2 separate regions of the Homo sapiens genome follow, and region 1 is linked to region 2. The links come from fine-mapping of genetic effects on gene expression. A gene starts in region 2. The other region holds a variant in brackets. All regions are shown on one strand. Distances are between the middles of the regions.

The links.
Region 1: its variant is fine-mapped to the expression of NRP2 in monocytes after interferon gamma (Fairfax 2014, PIP 0.95). The same link has a PIP of 0.9 or more in monocytes after LPS.

Annotation. Positions count from the first base shown.
Region 1 is chr2:205,739,640-205,748,448 of GRCh38, forward strand. It overlaps NRP2 (neuropilin 2), which reads left to right. Exons shown (of 17, transcript NM_003872.3): 8 at 880-1,024; 9 at 3,564-3,913; 10 at 6,107-6,251. Among named protein-coding and RNA genes, the nearest start is that of NRP2, 62 kb to the left of the region's middle. RefSeq lists enhancers at 6,998-7,549, 8,516-8,809. The variant T/TTTTG (reference allele first, on the strand shown) is at 4,101.
Region 2 is chr2:205,677,358-205,686,166 of GRCh38, forward strand. It overlaps NRP2 (neuropilin 2), which reads left to right and starts at 5,144. Exons shown (of 17, transcript NM_003872.3): 1 at 5,144-6,006. The coding sequence starts at 5,934. RefSeq lists enhancers at 1,058-2,257, 7,139-7,769 and a silencer at 4,545-4,664.

The DNA of each region.
Region 1 (8,809 bases), 62 kb after region 2:
CAGGAAAACCAAGGGAAACTCACATATACTTTGCTCTAGTTACTTTTTTTTTTTTTTTTTTTTGAGCAGAGAGCACAAAAAAGCATAAGGTCCATATGGCAGTTATTGATCTGGGCCATCTGGAAAGCCAGGACTTGCTCCCACCATGTAGGATCAGAAGCTGTTCCAAAAAGCCTTCCCTCCCATAAGAGATGTATTGGTCAGATGGGGACAGGGATGGATTTCATTACAGGGCAGGACTACAGTGAGAGGAAGCTGGAGCAGGACTCTGAAGGACTGTCTGCAACCCTGACCCTGCCACAAAGATCAGAGAGAACCAAGAAAGTGTTGATTGACACAGGGCCATTGTAGGTAGAGGGTGCCCCTCATCATCTTGTCCGCTCATGGGTGGGATGGCATCAAGTAACTAACAAAAACAACCGTGAAGCACTTTGCAATTAGAAAATGCTCTGCAAATATTCCTAGGTGCCTGCAACATGAGGAAGAGGGAGTGTCAAGTTCAAGCTAGTGAGTGAGGTCTGGTAGCCCTAAAAGATGATATTTTTACTTCATTTTAAACAGATATTCTACTTTTCTCTTTCTTCCTTAGCTTCTCAAGTGTTTTCCTTCTTCTGCCTGCTCTCAGCCTGGAGGCAAAATTTTCCTTCCCTCTAAAAGTTTCTGGGAAGACCACTGATAATTTTCAAGTAGAACAGTGTGAGAAATTAATTTTTTTTACAGTGTTTCTTTAAAAAGCCCAAAACAACATACCCACTGATTATTTTTAAGCTTGAGGGAAAGAAAATTTGACAGAACTTTCCCATCCCCTTCAAAGACTGCTCAAGTGGCTGAACTACAAACAGGGGTTTCAATAACATGGTTTTGCATCTTACGCTACAGGTATTTCAAGCCAACAACGATGCAACTGAGGTGGTTCTGAACAAGCTCCACGCTCCACTGCTGACAAGGTTTGTTAGAATCCGCCCTCAGACCTGGCACTCAGGTATCGCCCTCCGGCTGGAGCTCTTCGGCTGCCGGGTCACAGGTGAGGTGGGGGCTCCAATGAGGTTGGGGTGCTGATTGAGCCCTAGGCTCTGCTCCCTTTCAACTCTCTGCAAACAGCATGACTGCACCACATGACCTTCCCAGAAAGACTGGCTCAAGGACTCAAGTCCTACCAGAGTTTGTCTTTTCATTCATTCATTCAGTATACATTTATTAAGCATCTACGATTTCTATTAATAGCTAACATTTATGGAATGCTAACTAGGTACAGATGCCATTCTAAGCACCTAAGATGTAACATATTTTATTATCCTCATAAGGACTCCATGGGTATTATTCTCCTCACTTTACAGATGAGGAAACCAAGACTTAAAGAGCTAGGTCACTCACCAGTAAGTGGTAGAGCCATGGTTTGAATCTAGGCAGTTCCAGTCCAAAGCCCTTGCTTTCAAATAACACTCTCTGCTGCCTCAACCGGGGGCCAAGAGCTGTGCATGGTGCTGTGGACACAAAGGTGGGCACAACAGACTGTTCTGTGTGGGCATATGGACAAGTTGGGCAGACATACTGATAAACTCATAAATAAATATAAAATCAAAACTATGATCAATGTCTGGACATAGAGGCTTATGGTCCTTGGAAGTACATCGTAGGGGATTTGACCCAGCCTAGGAGCTCAAGGAAGACTTCTTTGAGGAGGTGATGATTGAGGTGAGGTTAGAAGGCAAATAACAGACATTACCTGGTGAAGAAGGGAGGGAAGGTGCACCAGGCAATGGTCACAGCTTTCTCAATGGCACGGTGGCAAGAGGGACCAAAAGAGGAAGTGAGGAGCATGGACACAGCTTGTGGGCTGAAACCCAAGGCATGTAGATTGGAGAAGACCAGAGTGGGAGTTGGGACATTATAGGAGGCAATGCAGGGGGTGCAGATGGGAGATGATGATGGCTGGATTAGCCCCAGAAATTTATGGACAGACCAATCCCCTTTATCTTGTGGGCTCAGCCCAGGGCAGGCAAGTTGCCTCTTTGACCTGGAAGTGTCTTCAGTGTACATCCATCCACGTGCCTTTCCCCTAATCATTCCAGCTCTGACAGGGAGTGCTCCAAGGTCTGACCCTGTTTGAGGTTTCTAGTTAAAACACCTTGTGTTTGTACAGTCTCTGCATCTCCACATGCCTTTCTTGTTTATCATCTTGCCTACACTTTCTAACAACCCTGTGAGGTAAGGTGGGCCAGGGACTGATAAGGAAACCAAGACTCAAAGAGGCTAAATAGCTTGCCCAAAGTCATTCAACTAGGAGGTGACAGAGCCAGGATCTGAACCCACGTTTTCTCAATTCAAATTCTCTGCTCTTACCACATTTACACAAAGACCCATTTTCTTCTAATGGGATCAGTTTATGCTAATCCTGTCTAGGGGACTATTTTCTGTCCCTTCCCTGTTGCTGTTCCAGGATAATCAGCAAAGATTTAGGTAGAGGTCATTCTCTGGAAGATTGAAAGGAGAGAACCAGTGATTTTGAAGAAGGGGAACAACGTGGAGGATCTTTTTTATCCATAGCTCAGTTTGCAAGTATGAAATGCACATTGACTATAGACCCTGCCTTGCCTGACATCATTTATTCATGCATTCTCCACTCAATCATTTGTTCCACACATCTGATGTGCCAGGCACACACTGGGAATGGGACATAGAGACAGGAACAAAATAGATGGGGTCTCTGACATCGTAGAACTTTCAGGCTACTGAGCAAGATAGATAATAAACAAATGCAAGTACTGGATAAACTAGAATGTGCACATGAAGGAAAAGAACAGGGTGCTCTGAGGGAAACCAATTTAGTGAGGATTGAAAATTTGGGAACAGCTTTTCTGTGGATATGACACTTGAGCTTGGGGGTAAGAAAATGTTAGTCTGGGGGTGACTGAAGGGAAAAGCATTTGGGGTAATGGGAACAGCATGTGGGAAGGATCCAAGGCAGTAAAGAGCAGTTATTTGGGAAGTAAAGACCTGATACTGATGCCAGGAAGGTTTCCTTCTACTTGGCAAAACAATTACTAGGAAATAATTCAATGTTTAGCTCAGTTCCCCTGTTCTCAGTGTCCCTGATAGGGTCAGTGGGGACTAGTGTCATCGACAGGGATGTGCAGACACACATTCTGAGAGTCCTTGGTTAGAGCTGTAAGCACAAATAGTTAATGGCCATTGGATACTTAAATATGCCAGGCACCATCCTGTGAGCTCTTAGTAACTAACAGAATCCTTGCAACAGCCCTCAAGAGGTAGGCACCTCTATTAGCTCCCCTTTAGATCTAAGGAAACTGAGGCAAAGAGCAATTAAATAATTTGCCCAAGGCCCTCTGACTAGTAAGTGGCAGAGTGAACATGAACACAGGCAGTCTAGCTCTGAGTCCAGGCTCTTAACCACAGTGCTGTACACATTCACCATGCAAAGAAATTAGTGCTGACTTAGTATTTGACAGTTGGGCTCTTTTGCAGCTCCCTTCTTATAGCGGGTGGTCCCTGGTTAGCAGGTGTCAGCCATGACCTCTTGTATCTTCCTCTCCTCTCTGCAGATGCTCCCTGCTCCAACATGCTGGGGATGCTCTCAGGCCTCATTGCAGACTCCCAGATCTCCGCCTCTTCCACCCAGGAATACCTCTGGAGCCCCAGTGCAGCCCGCCTGGTTAGCAGCCGCTCGGGCTGGTTCCCTCGAATCCCTCAGGCCCAGCCCGGTGAGGAGTGGCTTCAGGTAGATCTGGGAACACCCAAGACAGTGAAAGGTGTCATCATCCAGGGAGCCCGCGGAGGAGACAGTATCACTGCTGTGGAAGCCAGAGCATTTGTGCGCAAGTTCAAAGTCTCCTACAGCCTAAACGGCAAGGACTGGGAATACATTCAGGACCCCAGGACCCAGCAGCCAAAGGTAGGCTGTTCTTGGAGGCCTCTGTAACGTTACCCTCAACAGGGAGGCTAAGTGTGGTACAGGGAGTTGAGACTGATGATGTCCCATCTAAACAGTCGTCATCCAACTCCTGAAATCCAATAAAACAAATATCGTTTGAGAGATTACTTTGTGCCAGGCACTGTGCTAAATACCTTATTTCTGACTC[T/TTTTG]TTTGTTTGTTTGTTTGTTTGTTTTTGAGATGGAGTCTCTGTCACCCAGGCTGGAGTGCAGTGGCCTGTTCTCGGCTCACTGCAACCTCCGCCTCCAGGGTTCAAGCGATTCTCCAGCCTCAGCCTCCTGAGTGGCTGGGATTACAGGTGCCCGCCACCACACCTAGCTAATTTTTGTATTTCTGGTAGAGATGGGGTTTCACCGTATTGGTCAGGCTGGTCTCGAACTCCTGACCTCAAGTGATCCACTTGCCTTGGCCTCTCAAAGTGCTGGGATTATAGGCATGAACCACCGCGCCCGGCCTGGACTCTTTTTTAATCGTTACAACATCTGTGCAAAGTAGATCTTTTTGTCACTCCCATTTTAGAGATGATAAACTGACACTTGATATCATGCCCAGGGTCACACAGTTCACCTGTGATAGAGCCGATTCAGAAACCGGAAGTCTGACTCCAAAGTCCAGATGCCTAACCCCTACTGAACACTGCCTTTTTATAAAGTTCAACACTCTTTATACACTCTTTCAGATAAAGTTTCCTTGAAATTGGCCAGACATCTAAAGGGGATGTGGTTTTTGGAGGCCAAGCTATAGAAACTAGAGGATGACTTCCAAAAATAACGATGTTTTTCTGAATGTCGCTGCATTCCTTTGTATTCTCCTAGTTTTGACTGCTTAGATCTTTCCGGCCTCTCAGACTGAGGCAAGGGAGAAGCAAGAGAAACTCACCCCGAGCCAGAAGCTCAGGCCAGTACAGCTTACTCCCCTGCCACCAGAGTGAAGGTCAGCCTTCAACACAGACACAAGGAGCCCCAGAAGGGGAGGAGACGTCATACCTCTGTCCCTCCCCAGATCAGTCTCCTGGCAGGCCAGGCTCTCTGATTCTTATCTCTAGTTACCCCTTGTTTTTCTCAAAAGAACAGGTCCCTAAAAAAGGAGGGAGTTTGCATGTCTCGGGGCCACCTTTGCTAAGCAAATGTCTCCATTCTGAATACAGAGGCAAGAGTTGGGTTGGAGGTTTTGCGATGCTGAGGTAAACTCCCAGCTCTCAACTCCAGAGGCTTAGAAAGGCTCAGGGCTTGGTAACTGGAACCTTGCATCGATGGAGCAGAAGTTGGACCGCAGGCTTCCCCATGGAGAGCTGAGCCTGGTTTTTCTTGGGAAAGAAGTTGATCTTTGCCATTGTGGGAGACAGCCCTATCCGAGACAGTGCTTCTGGTTCAGAATTGTGGACGCAGGGCATCCTGAAAACTGGAGCGGTCCTGCTGAATTTCTGGGGGCTAATCAGCTGCAGGCCCTGGCCACCCACTCCTGTCCTTCCCCCGGATGAGTGTCTCCAAGTGTACTCTAGGCTGGTCCTCCAAAGCAGCCCCCTGCTCCCCGCATCATCAGTTTTATGTACTGGGGCTCCATGTGAGGTTTCTTTTGACAGGAGTGCTTTCCCTAAACAAAGGTTTGGGAAACAGTCTAAGACTATCGATGTGTGACCAGAAGACAGTGTCATTGGCCTAGGGGTCATTTTCCCGTAAGGTTCTCAGTGAGCTAGGAACTATCAGTCAGCTTGGGTTACCTCAATGGAGGCTTTCACACATTAGAAAAAGAAGTGTTCCTTTCCCTGTAGACCAGGAATTCAGAACGGTCAAAGATCGCCCAAACTGCCTTCCCCCCTCTCTAGCCAAAGTCAGCTGAAAACGCAGTTGGAGCCAAATTCTTCCCCAGATACTCCATTTTAGTCACCAGGTAAAAGACACAACCTGGAAATTGCCACCTTTGTTTACTTCCTATTTTCCATAATTCTGGGTCCATAACCACCTTCCAAATGAATAAAATCCTTGGTCTGAAAATGAAGCTCGCGTGGATCAGAATGTCCCAGTGACCAGGAATCAACTAGGAAGCTGCCTTCCTAGCAGGACGTGCGGGGCAGGGAGGAGAAGGGGAAGGAAAGGGAAGAAGGTGATAGGGACTGGGTCCCACACCAGAAGGGCTGAGTGGCCTCTCTCCCTGCAGCTGTTCGAAGGGAACATGCACTATGACACCCCTGACATCCGAAGGTTTGACCCCATTCCGGCACAGTATGTGCGGGTATACCCGGAGAGGTGGTCGCCGGCGGGGATTGGGATGCGGCTGGAGGTGCTGGGCTGTGACTGGACAGGTAAGATGACATTTCCTCCTCTTTGCATCTCACCCACATGGTCCTCTGACCCTGGCATCCCACGAGGCCCTGGGAGGGCTGTGGAGGGGGCAGCCATCCCAGGAGCTGGAAATGCTGCAGACCCCTGCCATGTTCTCCTGCCTCAGACCACGGGTACTGCAGCCTCTGGACTTGGGACAGTTTCTCAAGGGATGTACTTTGTCTTTTTTAAGGGATCATTTCAGTTCTCCAACCCGAGTCTCTCAAAAACAAATCATAACCACACACCACCCACCCAAATTCAATTAGACCCTGGCTCTTCAGGCCAGAGGGCTGTGGCTGTTGATTTAGGGAAGAAAAAAACCCCTCATGATAATAAAGTAATCGGTTTATGTCTGAATCTGGCCTCCAGATGTCAGTGGCTAAGAGACTTCATTTTCATTTCGGAGCCACATCTGTAAAAGGCATTTATTTGCTCAGGAGGGACCCTGTTGCAGGGAGCTGATGGGGGCAGGACTCCTTCTCATTGTCCTGCTCATTCCTGCCAGGTGGCCCAGGCCTTGGGGAACACCTCTCATCATTCCAAATGAGGGTGAGGCCCACGGAGGGTGCCCAGCCTTCCTGGTTTCCGAGGGAGGGCCCTGCCCTTCTGAGTCAGGCCCTACCTTCCTTTCCTTGGGTCGCCAGCCCTCCTCCCTCAGCAGAGCTGGCACCAGATCTTACCCAGAGCTCACTCACTGCCTGCCAAAAGGAGTTTGTGGGAGCCACTGGGGCTCAGGGACTGAGCCTGATGCCAGCAGGAGCAGCCACCAGCCTGAGCTATCCTGCCCTCCTCCGCCAGAGCCCCAGGTATCCCCATTTTCCTGTCTGTGCCGTACCTGTCACGGGCTCAGCCGGCAGGATGGCATGAGGGATTAATAAGGGCATGTCGGAGAAGTGCTTTTGGCTCCCAGGGAGAAAAATGCTGCCTGTATGCTGGCTACAGCAGCGCAGAGGAGCCCTGTTGAGGCACACGGGCTGGGAATTGGGCCCAAATTAGCCTCCTCACTTTTGAATTGAAGGCAGCCCCAGCGAACACATCTTCATAGGAAGACACTTAACTCCCCATTACCTGGGGATGAGGCCAAAGTTCCCTGCAGCCTGCTAAACGTGTGTCACCCGTCCTCTCACAGGTGCAGAAAACCTCCCCCCGATACAAGCTGGCTTCATTTATGTGCCCTGGAATCAGGGGCTCAGCGCTGTAGGGGATCCAGGAGCTTGTAAGCCAGTGGCTTTCACACACTTCTGCCCATGATACACAATTTAAAATAATTTTCCTTCACAACCCGCTTCACTTATAAGCACTCACACACAGTGGTGTATACGGGGTACAGTGTATGGGTAAGTGCTTGGACTCTGGAGACAGATTGCCAAGTTCAAGTCCTGCCCCTGCCATTGGCTGGCTGCATAACCTCAGAAAAGTTAGTCTCTCAGCGCCTTGGTTATCTTAGCTGAAAAATGGAGAGGACAATAGTCTGTCTACCCCATAGGGTCATTGTGAGGATTAAATGAATGAATGGATGTGAAATACTTAGACTACTGCCTGCACCCAGCAAACCTGTTATGATAAATAACTGTAACTGAAACAAAAGGTTCCCAAAGCAATGGTCATCTTAACCATGGAAGTGCACTCCAAAATATTATAGTCGGTATGTTTTAAAAGCTGGTCATGACCTATTCGACGGATTCCACAACCCAATGATGAGAGTGATGCGTGGTTTGGGAAATATCACAGACCTGGGCCAATTCCTCTTTCATAGACAAGGAAACAGCCCCAGAAGGTAGAAGTCACTTGCCAGAGGTCACTCAGCTGGATGAAGTCCACCTCATTCTTCCCCCCATCCCTTGCCCTTCAGTGCCATGCCCTCCCAGTCTGGCCAGTGGGACAGTTGCTAATGACCTCTTTCCTTCATTGCTCCCCAATCCCAACATGCCCCAAATTACACTGGTGATGGTCAGTGACAGGTTTCTTATTTCAAAGCCCTGCCTGGCCATTCCTTGGAAGATCAGAGTTGAGGAGCGTTCCCCTCTGCCCAGCCTCCTTTCCTTTGAAGTCTCTGACATCTGGTTTCAATTTCAGGGGTAGCGTTGCTGTTTGATGGGCAGTTACCTTGGAGCACCCAGTACAAACATAGTACAAACAGTATAAACACCGAGGCCTCGGTGCCCGCCGTTCCTCCACTTTCATTTACACGCCCTGCCCTCCGGTGCCTCATTGGCCCCTGGGTTTAACATTCTTTACACCAATCAGCTGACCCATTTTGCTACCTAACATTTCCAGAAACTGTTCTCCATAGGTCACGTGGCTATGTTTGCTTTTCGAATTTCCATCTGTTTCTCACACTCATCTTCGGTTCACTTCTTCATCCCTATCCCAAAGGATAACAGGAAAAATAATGGGCTGGGCTGAGCTGCTGCAGCTAAATACTTTGACAGGGCTGCTTCACCTGTTAGTTGGTTTGTGTTTCAAATAATTATGTTTTGCCTTACTGCCCCATAGTTTGCTTTACAATCGAGTTTCTATGACACAGTGACAAACT
Region 2 (8,809 bases):
AAGGTTAAAAATCATTCAAGTCAACCCATCATTCTGTAGGTGAGAAAAGTGGTTCCAAATTGGTTAACAGAATTTTCAAGGACACCCAAGTAGAGACTGAAGGTCCAGCTGCCCTGTCCTCAAGGCTTCTGCTGCCCCCACCTGCTTCTCCGCGGTGGTCTCCACTGACGAGTGGAGTTGAGGCCCGAAGCTGGGAGAGCATCATAAAGACCCTGACTCCTGGTGAGTGCTCTGGGAAAGTCATCCAAGAGAGCGTAGAAAGAACATGGGATGATAGACAATAATATGAATATAAGCTAGCTCTTCTCTTCCTTAACCAAACAGACAGTGAGCATTTTCAAATGCTGCCTTGGTAATCAGAACTTCTGCTGATACTGGGGTTCCTTTCTTGGCAAACAAGTATGGTAACCACAGAGATTGATAAGGGTGTGAATTTCTATGGGTTTCTATGGGAATTATTCAGCTCTGGTCTTTTGATTCTGAGGCTGAGTTGTCCAACATGGTAGCTGGTAAGCACATGCGGCAATTTACATTTAAATGAATAAAATTAAATACAACCTACAGTTCAGTGACTCACTCACACTAGCCACATTTCCAGTGCGCAGTAGCCATGTGAACAGCACAGAGACCACCGTCCTTGCAGAAGATTTAATGGAGAGTGCTGTTTTAAGGGAGAGGGTTGACTGGGTCTTTTTGATACGCTTATTGCCTCAAAGGTAGAAAAATTAATGTAGCATAGGAAGATCAGACTCATGCTAAAGCCAGGCAGACTGGAAGAAGCAATAGGGCTTCTTTAGGTTCTTTTTCCAAGGATTCCAGGGAGGTCTGAATGAATTTTGCACATTTTGCTGCTGCTTTTTAAATTTTGTTTCATAAGGGCCCCTCCTACCAGATCCAGTGTTTGTGTCTGAGGAAGAAATGAGATATACACCCAGTATGGAGTGAAGGAGATTTCAATACTTTATGGAAATCTGTAAGGATTCCAGAAACCCACCAAATAGAATATACTAGAAATATCAATTTAGAATAGAAATGTCAAATAGAAACTACTGGGCAATATTCAAGTGTGCTGGAAAAAAAAAAAGTTGATTGTTTAAAAGGCGAGTAAGAAAAAAAAAAAAACCCTTAGTGACCAGAAACCTGGACTTTGACATCAAACAAAAGAGAGAATAATAAATTAGGACCTATTCCATTTTAACTGAAGCTTTGCTTCTGAGACAGATGTAGCTAAACCTTAACTAGGGCAGTGTGTTAAATTACAGATTAAGATGCAATTATGCCTTAGATCTTTCCTTTTCAGGGTGAGAGCTTATTGATGTTAGGGCTCCGATAAGGGGAAGCACCATGTGACACGTGATATCTATTGTGGAAGCATGAAACTTCTGGAGCTTTTAGATCCTGTGTTCCCGAGAGGCAAGACCTAAATCTCTGTCTTGCTCGCATACCTCTGGCATAGTCATGCATCCATGAACATTTCGTAAGTACAGTGGGATGAACACAGATGGAAAAGCATACCTGAAACGAACCTCTAGTAACCACCAATGGTTGAGTGGGCTGGTGATGAAAGGTCTGGCTCCAGCTCATAAACCCATCAGCCGCTACTTTGAACATGTCCCTGCAAAGCTCCTGCCTGCATGAGGCGAGGCTTTTGGTGTTTTCAAATTGGCTCTCTGCAGTTGCTGCTAAAGGTCACAGGTAAATCTGGGAATTCCACCACTGCAGCATTTTCGAGAACTTGTTCTTGGTGGTTTTTCCAAGAAACCTGAAACATCTGCCCCATATTGAAAAGTACCCAGAGAGGAAATGTGAAGGAATGCTTGTCCAGGTTTCCTTCAACGGAAGAGCATTTATGGAAGGCTGTGTGTAAATAGAACACATCAGATCAGAAGTTCCCAACTACTGGTCTGTGGAGGCTTTGCATCAGAATCACCTAAGATGTGTGTTAAAAATACAGATTCCCAAAGACCACTCCAGACCCAAGGAATTTCACCTGCAGGAAAATGGTTCCCAGGAATCAGAATTTTTAACACTTCCTCCAGGTGATGCTGATATACCCTAAGGTTTGGGACTGTCTAGCTGGGAACACTTAACTTTCCACAGGGGTGTGGCTTGGTAACAGCTTTCTCTTAGCATCATTTACCAACCTGTTTCATGTTCCCCCACATCCCTTCCCGTCAAAGGAATGGAATGTGGAGTGGATTATCTAGTATTATTTTACAACTAAGGATAATGACATGAAACATCCTAGGTGAGTCAGTGATGTGGCCAGGAATCTCAGCTTCGCTAATTAGCTGTTATCTAGTCAGCTCAGTGTTTTTGATCACAAACCCGATTTTTGACACTGGCCTTTAGGTAGGCAGGCTTCCCTATGGGCCAGGGATGTGGACTCACAAAATACTGAAAAGCACGGTGCCTACCTAGCTCTTTACCACTATACCTCTGGTGGAAACCAGACCAACTGCAGTCAAACCCTGAGATCCCAGTCTAGAGGGAAACAAGACTGGCAGGTCTGAGCCAGTCCCAGTGTGAAGAATTTCCCTAAAGATTTGTTTTCCATGTGGCACATGTGAGATTTGTGTTTAGTTCCCAAGAGTCCTTGGAAGTCTTAGGTTAAAACAATTCTAAGCCCTCTCTGGGCCGGTGGGGTCTTGTTCAGAGTAGGCTGGGGAGAGATCGGCCTCACTCTGAATCTTCCCTGGTCTGATAAAGCACTTTGAACTCCTTGGAATTAAAAGCACCACCAGAAGTGTGACCCTGGGTGGTGTTACCATTATTTATTGAGTGCTGCCCCCTAGAGGATTGAAAAATGGTCTGGCCGCTTGAGTCCCCAGGGATGGAAACCTGAGACTCACTCTCTGTCCAACTGCAGGAAATGAGGCCTTCACTCAAGGGGAGTGGGAAGTCTTGCAGCCCTGGTACAGAGGACTCCCAGGAAGTAAGTGAGCGTCCCCTGTAGGACACCGCTGAAAAATGAAAAGTTACAGTGTAGGCAACCAGGCCAGGAACAAAACTGATTCTTACTTTTCTCTACTCTGGAAGCAGCCTGATGGGGACCTTCATCCCTGAGACCCCAAGACCAGAAGTCCAGGGTTGTCATTCTTATGGTTCTCCAGTGGGCTTAGGTTTACCTTTTCTCTCTTCTTTCCCCCTTTCACAGTGCCCTTCACCTAAACCCTGGCTACATTATTCTCACAAACAGGAGTCTCCCACATTGGGCACTGGCAAAAATGGTTTGGCATGCCTGGTGAGTGGTGGGGAGAGGTGATATTAAATGGCCCTCTCTATTCAGGGACTGTCACTACAGATAGCGTTCTTTGTCCTTAGATTAGCATCTTGGCAATGACATAAACCGGGATCTCTGCTTAAGGTTAATAATCCAAACTGCTCTTTTACTTTGTTAAATATTTAAGGCTTGGAGTCATTCTTTACAATTGAGCTTTAAAGAGGAGAAATGTAAATCTGGAGTTTTTAATAATGTGGATGTGCTCTCAAGCCTAGAAAGGAAGGAAGAAGGAAGGAAAGGAGGGAGGAAGAGGAAGGAGGGAGGCAAAGAGGGAATGAAAGGTAGCATTTAGGCTAGCCAAGAGACATGCTCCCTGGAAGAACTCAGAGGCCTCTGTGCTGTGCCTTTCCCAACCAGGCATCTGAGATTAACAGTGTGATACTCAGCCTGTGGATTTCCACTCTAAAATCCCGCGCCACCCCCCAACACAGCTTGGCTCAACTATTTGCAAATCACTTCTGATTCAATTTTGTTTTGGTTATCTCAGTGTAAATAACAGTTAAGTGGGAGTTACAGATTTTTCAAACACTAAAAGTGATAAAGCTAATGGGCAAGTCCAGATAAGGAGGGAAACCACCCAGAAGAATCCACAAGTACAAGCCAAGAAGAAAATGGGTAGTCAGGTGTGTGTTTCTCGTCACCGAAACTGTATTTTTCTTAATCTACAGAAAATTTTACTTTCTTAATTTAAAAAAAATCTTAATCTGTAAATATTTTTCTGAATTTTCTTATTTTTCATATACCTCTTTTGTGGCAGAAAAGGTGTACATGTGCAGGGTGTAATTTAGGCTGTTTCTGTTGCAGTCTTTATGATAATGTAGTAATAGGTGTCTGGTGAAGCAAGACAGTTTGGAATCCACAAAGCCATCCTCAGAAACAAAGATACAAGTGTTTCCCCAACTGTTAGCTTGCAGTTCCCTCTAAACAGTTTTCACGCCTCCATTTAAAAATAGTTGGCATAATGATGTTTTCTTTCTCTAGGCTTTGTGACCACGTTTCCATGGGGGAAAATGTGAATAGACGTAGTTACAGTAGCATTTGGATGAGACGCCTTCAAGCACCTATACTTTTTCGGGGGAACTTGATGGAATCCAATTTAATTACCTGAAGAAATTATTTGCTGAAGAAAGTCTTTCCTCTTTTTAGGGTAGTTACAGTTAAAGGCGCAGGGGTAACGAAATCCTAACCCAGAGAGGAGCAGAGCATGTTTGGGACATAACAAAGGATCTGAGTAGTAAACGCAGCGAGTGTTTGGGGTTTTATTCAGACCGGGCTGACGGTGTGTGTCGCCGCCACGCACCGCTGCCTGTTCGAACGCATGGCTGAGCTGCCGACCGGCTCGCTACCCCAAACACCGTACGCCACCCAACTCCTCTTGTAACGCCATCGCGCGTGGCATTGTGTTGGGTTCTGCGTGTGTGGCATCGGAGTCGTGGAATTTAGGGGGAACAAGGCTTTTCCCCCCGTCCCCCCGGGGTCTCCCTTGGGTGGGGGCGACACGGCCAAGGCGGCGCGCCCTGGGGGTGCCCGGGGGCGCTTCTTCCCCAGGGCGTTACGCACCGGCGGCCCGGCGCGGAGGTGCGCGGGGGCGATCGGGAGATGCGGGGCGGGCGAGGGGTGGTGGGATGGGCGCCGCCTTAACTTCGATCCTGCGGCGGCCCGAGAGAAGCCGTCGCCGCCCCGCCCGAGCTGGGTGCCGCGGCACTCTGCTCTGCGCCGCGCGTCTCCGCGGCTGCCTCTTTAATCAGGAACACAGAAGGGGCGGGCCCTGAGCCGGCGCGTAATCGGATAGCTCTGCCGCGGCTCTGACATCCACATGCTGCTCGGCCTGAAAAGGCAGTGGGGAGCCGGAGGGGAGGCAGAGATCGCGAGCGAGGCACCAGCCTGCAGCCGGCCCCCAGCACATCCTCAGCCGCACAGACACTCGGCGAGGTGGAGGTGAGGGCGGGCGCCAGCGAACTCGGAGAGGGGCTCGCTCACTCCCAGGCGATCCCAGCCGCCACCGCCGCCGCACCAGCAGCAGCAACAGCAGCAGCAGCTTCCTTCCTCAGACTCCCCTCGAGAGGCTGGCCAAGCGGGTGTAGCCGTTGGGGGAGGCTCCCGCCGGGGGAACCCGGCGAGGACAAGAGCAGGGCGGCCGCCTTCCACTCGGGCTGTCCGGCGGCGGCTGCCTCCGCCCGTGTGTCCGTCAAGGGTGCCGCGGGATGTGTGTCAGTTTACGCCTCTGAGATCACACAGCTGCCTGGGGGCCGTGTGATGCCCAAGGCAAGTCTTGGTTTTAATTATTATTATTATCATTATTGTTACGCTTGGCTTTCGGGAAATACTCGTGATATTTGTAGGATAAAGGAAATGACACTTTGAGGAACTGGAGAGAACATATATGCGTTTTGTTTTTAAGAGGAAAACCGTGTTCTCTTCCCGGCTTGTTCCCTCTTTGCTGATTTCAGGAGCTACTCTCCTCCTGGTGAGGTGGAAATTCCAGCAAGAATAGAGGTGAAGACAAGCCACCAGGACTCAGGAGGGAAACGCTGACCATTAGAAACCTCTGCATAAGACGTTGTAAGGAGGAAAATAAAAGAGAGAAAAACACAAAGATTTAAACAAGAAACCTACGAACCCAGCTCTGGAAAGAGCCACCTTCTCCAAAATGGATATGTTTCCTCTCACCTGGGTTTTCTTAGCCCTCTACTTTTCAAGACACCAAGTGAGAGGCCAACCAGGTAAGCCACTGAAAGTTTTTCTATTTATTGCAACATGGTTTCCCCTTTAAAAGTGACCGCTAAAGCAGGAAGGCCACGCAGAACGGCACAGAAGAAGGCTCCCTCAGTACTCAATAATTTAAAGAGAGATCCCAGCCGGCCCTTCCTACACCACCACGGCTGCTAAAACCCAACTTTCCTCTCCTGCTAGGAGTGTGTGTGTGTGTGTGTGTGTGTGTGTGTGAGTGTGTTTTGAAACAGAATTTGGCGGTGTTCATATGTCACATATGGACTGAATCAAAGGTTTAAAAATACTACAAAGCCTTTGCATTACAGTTTTTGGGAATTTTTTTTCCCTGTCTTGAAGCAGAACACATCTCCCTTGAGTTTCTCCAACTAGCCAGTGAAATATAAATCATTTGCATTCCCTCCACTTAGCTACATTGAGCAATGTTAACTGAAGGGCTTGGGAAAGACAAGAGTTTAGTTTTGGTTTTCAGATGCTGTAGATTCTTTGGAGAATGACTGGTTATGCTTCAGAATCATAAGGCTCAGGCTGGTGGAGCAAGTTGGCTTGTGGCTGAGATAGGGGCTTGGGGTTGGGTGCTGCTGGCAACCAAGACGGTTGGTCTCTTCTCTCTTCATCCATGTGTTGTCTGGGAAAGTAAATCGTACGTTCTTTTAGAAATTATTATTAGCTAAAACAAATTGCAGGCCCTCGAAGGTCTCTCACTCTTGTGAAGTGGTTAGAAACTTTTGAGTGGAATTTGTTCTCAACCACTGCCAAAAAGGGTGTGTGGACAGGCTGCTGTGGAGATAAGCATTTCGAGGCCCAGAACAGTCTGGGGACCGCATTTGTGGGGAGCGGCAAGGGGTATGCTCTGGAAAGGGGAATCCATGGGGAATGCAGTGGGGTTTGTGCTTCCTTCTCGGACCACTCTCTAGAGTGAGCCTCCCTACCCCTCTGAGAACAGTGTCTGGAATCTAACAACAAAACTCTTAGCAGCTGCTACAGGTGATTGGAGATGGAGAAACCATCTATGGAGGAAATGGGTGAAAGAAAGGCGAAAAAGCCTTCCTGAAGTGCCCTCACCCAAGGCACTTGCAAGGCGATGGCGGCAGTGGTAGAGCTAACTCTGCAGCCTCCTTGGCATCCCCAGAACATCAGCTAGTGGATCCTAGCCTTGCATCTGGTACTGTCACCCTTCCTTCTCCTCACGCCCCCCACCAGCACACACACCACTTTAAGCTTGGGCATTTATTTGAGGGGGGAAGAAAATTCAGGAATGCCTTTGCCACCCAGATCCGCACGTTTGCAGCTCTTTCTTTGCCATAAGTGGTCTTCAGGGCAGCTGCAAATCCTGCCAAAGGGATGGGTGGGGGTCCCACTTGGGGAGATTTTCTGGGCCTCCGCCGTTCCCCCTTGCCTTATTTCTAAATTCCCAGCTTGAAGCGGAATTAAATTACCACTCACAGACCTGGATGCTGCGTAAATTATGTATGTTTGTGTGATTCGCTGTGTGTGTGTGCACACGCGCGCGCGCCGTGAGGATGCCCACAGTATATTATGTATTCAGACACGGACTCCAGTAGGCCCCAGCGCGCGAGCGCGCACACACTGGCACTCACACTGGCGCGCACACACATGCAACTTCAGGTTCCGTGTGCTGTGCGGAGCGGGAGGGGTCGTGAAGACTCAGGGGCCATCTCCTACCCCAGATGTTCGCACATCTGTCCCCGAGCGCTGCTTGGAGTGTGTGTACGTGTGTGCGCGACACCCGCTTGGACCCACTCCCGCTCTGCCACCTGCCTGCCGCGCTCTCTGCAGAACCCCCTCCCATCCCAATCCCCAGCAGTGCTGCGTCACTTCCAGAGAAGCCCAGAGGCGCGGAGTTCGGGGCAACCTCGGACCCGGGGTGGGATCTCAGGGTGGGATTCGAAGCTGGGACCTGCCAGGGACCTCCAGCTCCCCAAAATGCGATCTCAAGCCGTGAGCTGCTCAGGCTTTCAGGCGGAGCAAAGCACTGGCACCCTGGGAGCCGGCAGCGGGTGGCCAGGGCGAGGCCAAGCCACATACCTCTGACTCACCCGGTGTGCGCCGGCCGGGAAGGGGGCCTGGTTCAGCCGCCGCCGCCGGCGACGAGAACCAATTCTGGGAAGGAGCAAGATGGGGCAGAAGGTGCGCGCGGGGGAGCAACTGAGCAAATAACACGGCGGTCGCGGCGCGCGGCACCTTGGGCTGGCGCGTGGCTGGGAGGCCGCATGGGCGACGCGCACCAGGCTGCCCCTCTCCTCACTGCGCCGCCTCGCCAGACCGCAGTGCAGCCGCTAGCCTGCCTCCCTCCCTGCCCCGGGCGCCCCCGCCAGTCCCCTGCGCTCCGCTCTGCGCGGCAGGCTCGCCGCGACCCCTAGAGAGACGGCTTTGAGTGGCGGGAGGCCGAGGCCGGCTGGCTTGGGAATCCAAGCGCTGGCCCAACTAGGTGAGAGGAAACTGGGGTGGGATTTCGGAGAGGAGGGCGGAGAGAGGCGGGAAGGAACCAGCTTGAGCCCCAGGAATGCGCGCAACTTGCACAGCCTCTAGAAGCGCCGCGCGCCCAGCGCCCGCCGGTGCGCAGGAACAGGTGAAGAGCACGCGGCGTGCGGCCATCCACGTGGTGGGGACGTGATAGCCCCTCAGCTCTCCTCCTAGCCCTCCCTCCCCTTCCCCGCCCCCCAGCGCCTTCTCTAACGCCGCATCGATTTGTTTGGGCTACGCAGCAGAAACAGAGCCCAGCGATCCATAAACATTCTATTAAGCAAAAATATTCCCAGCGAAAGCAAAACC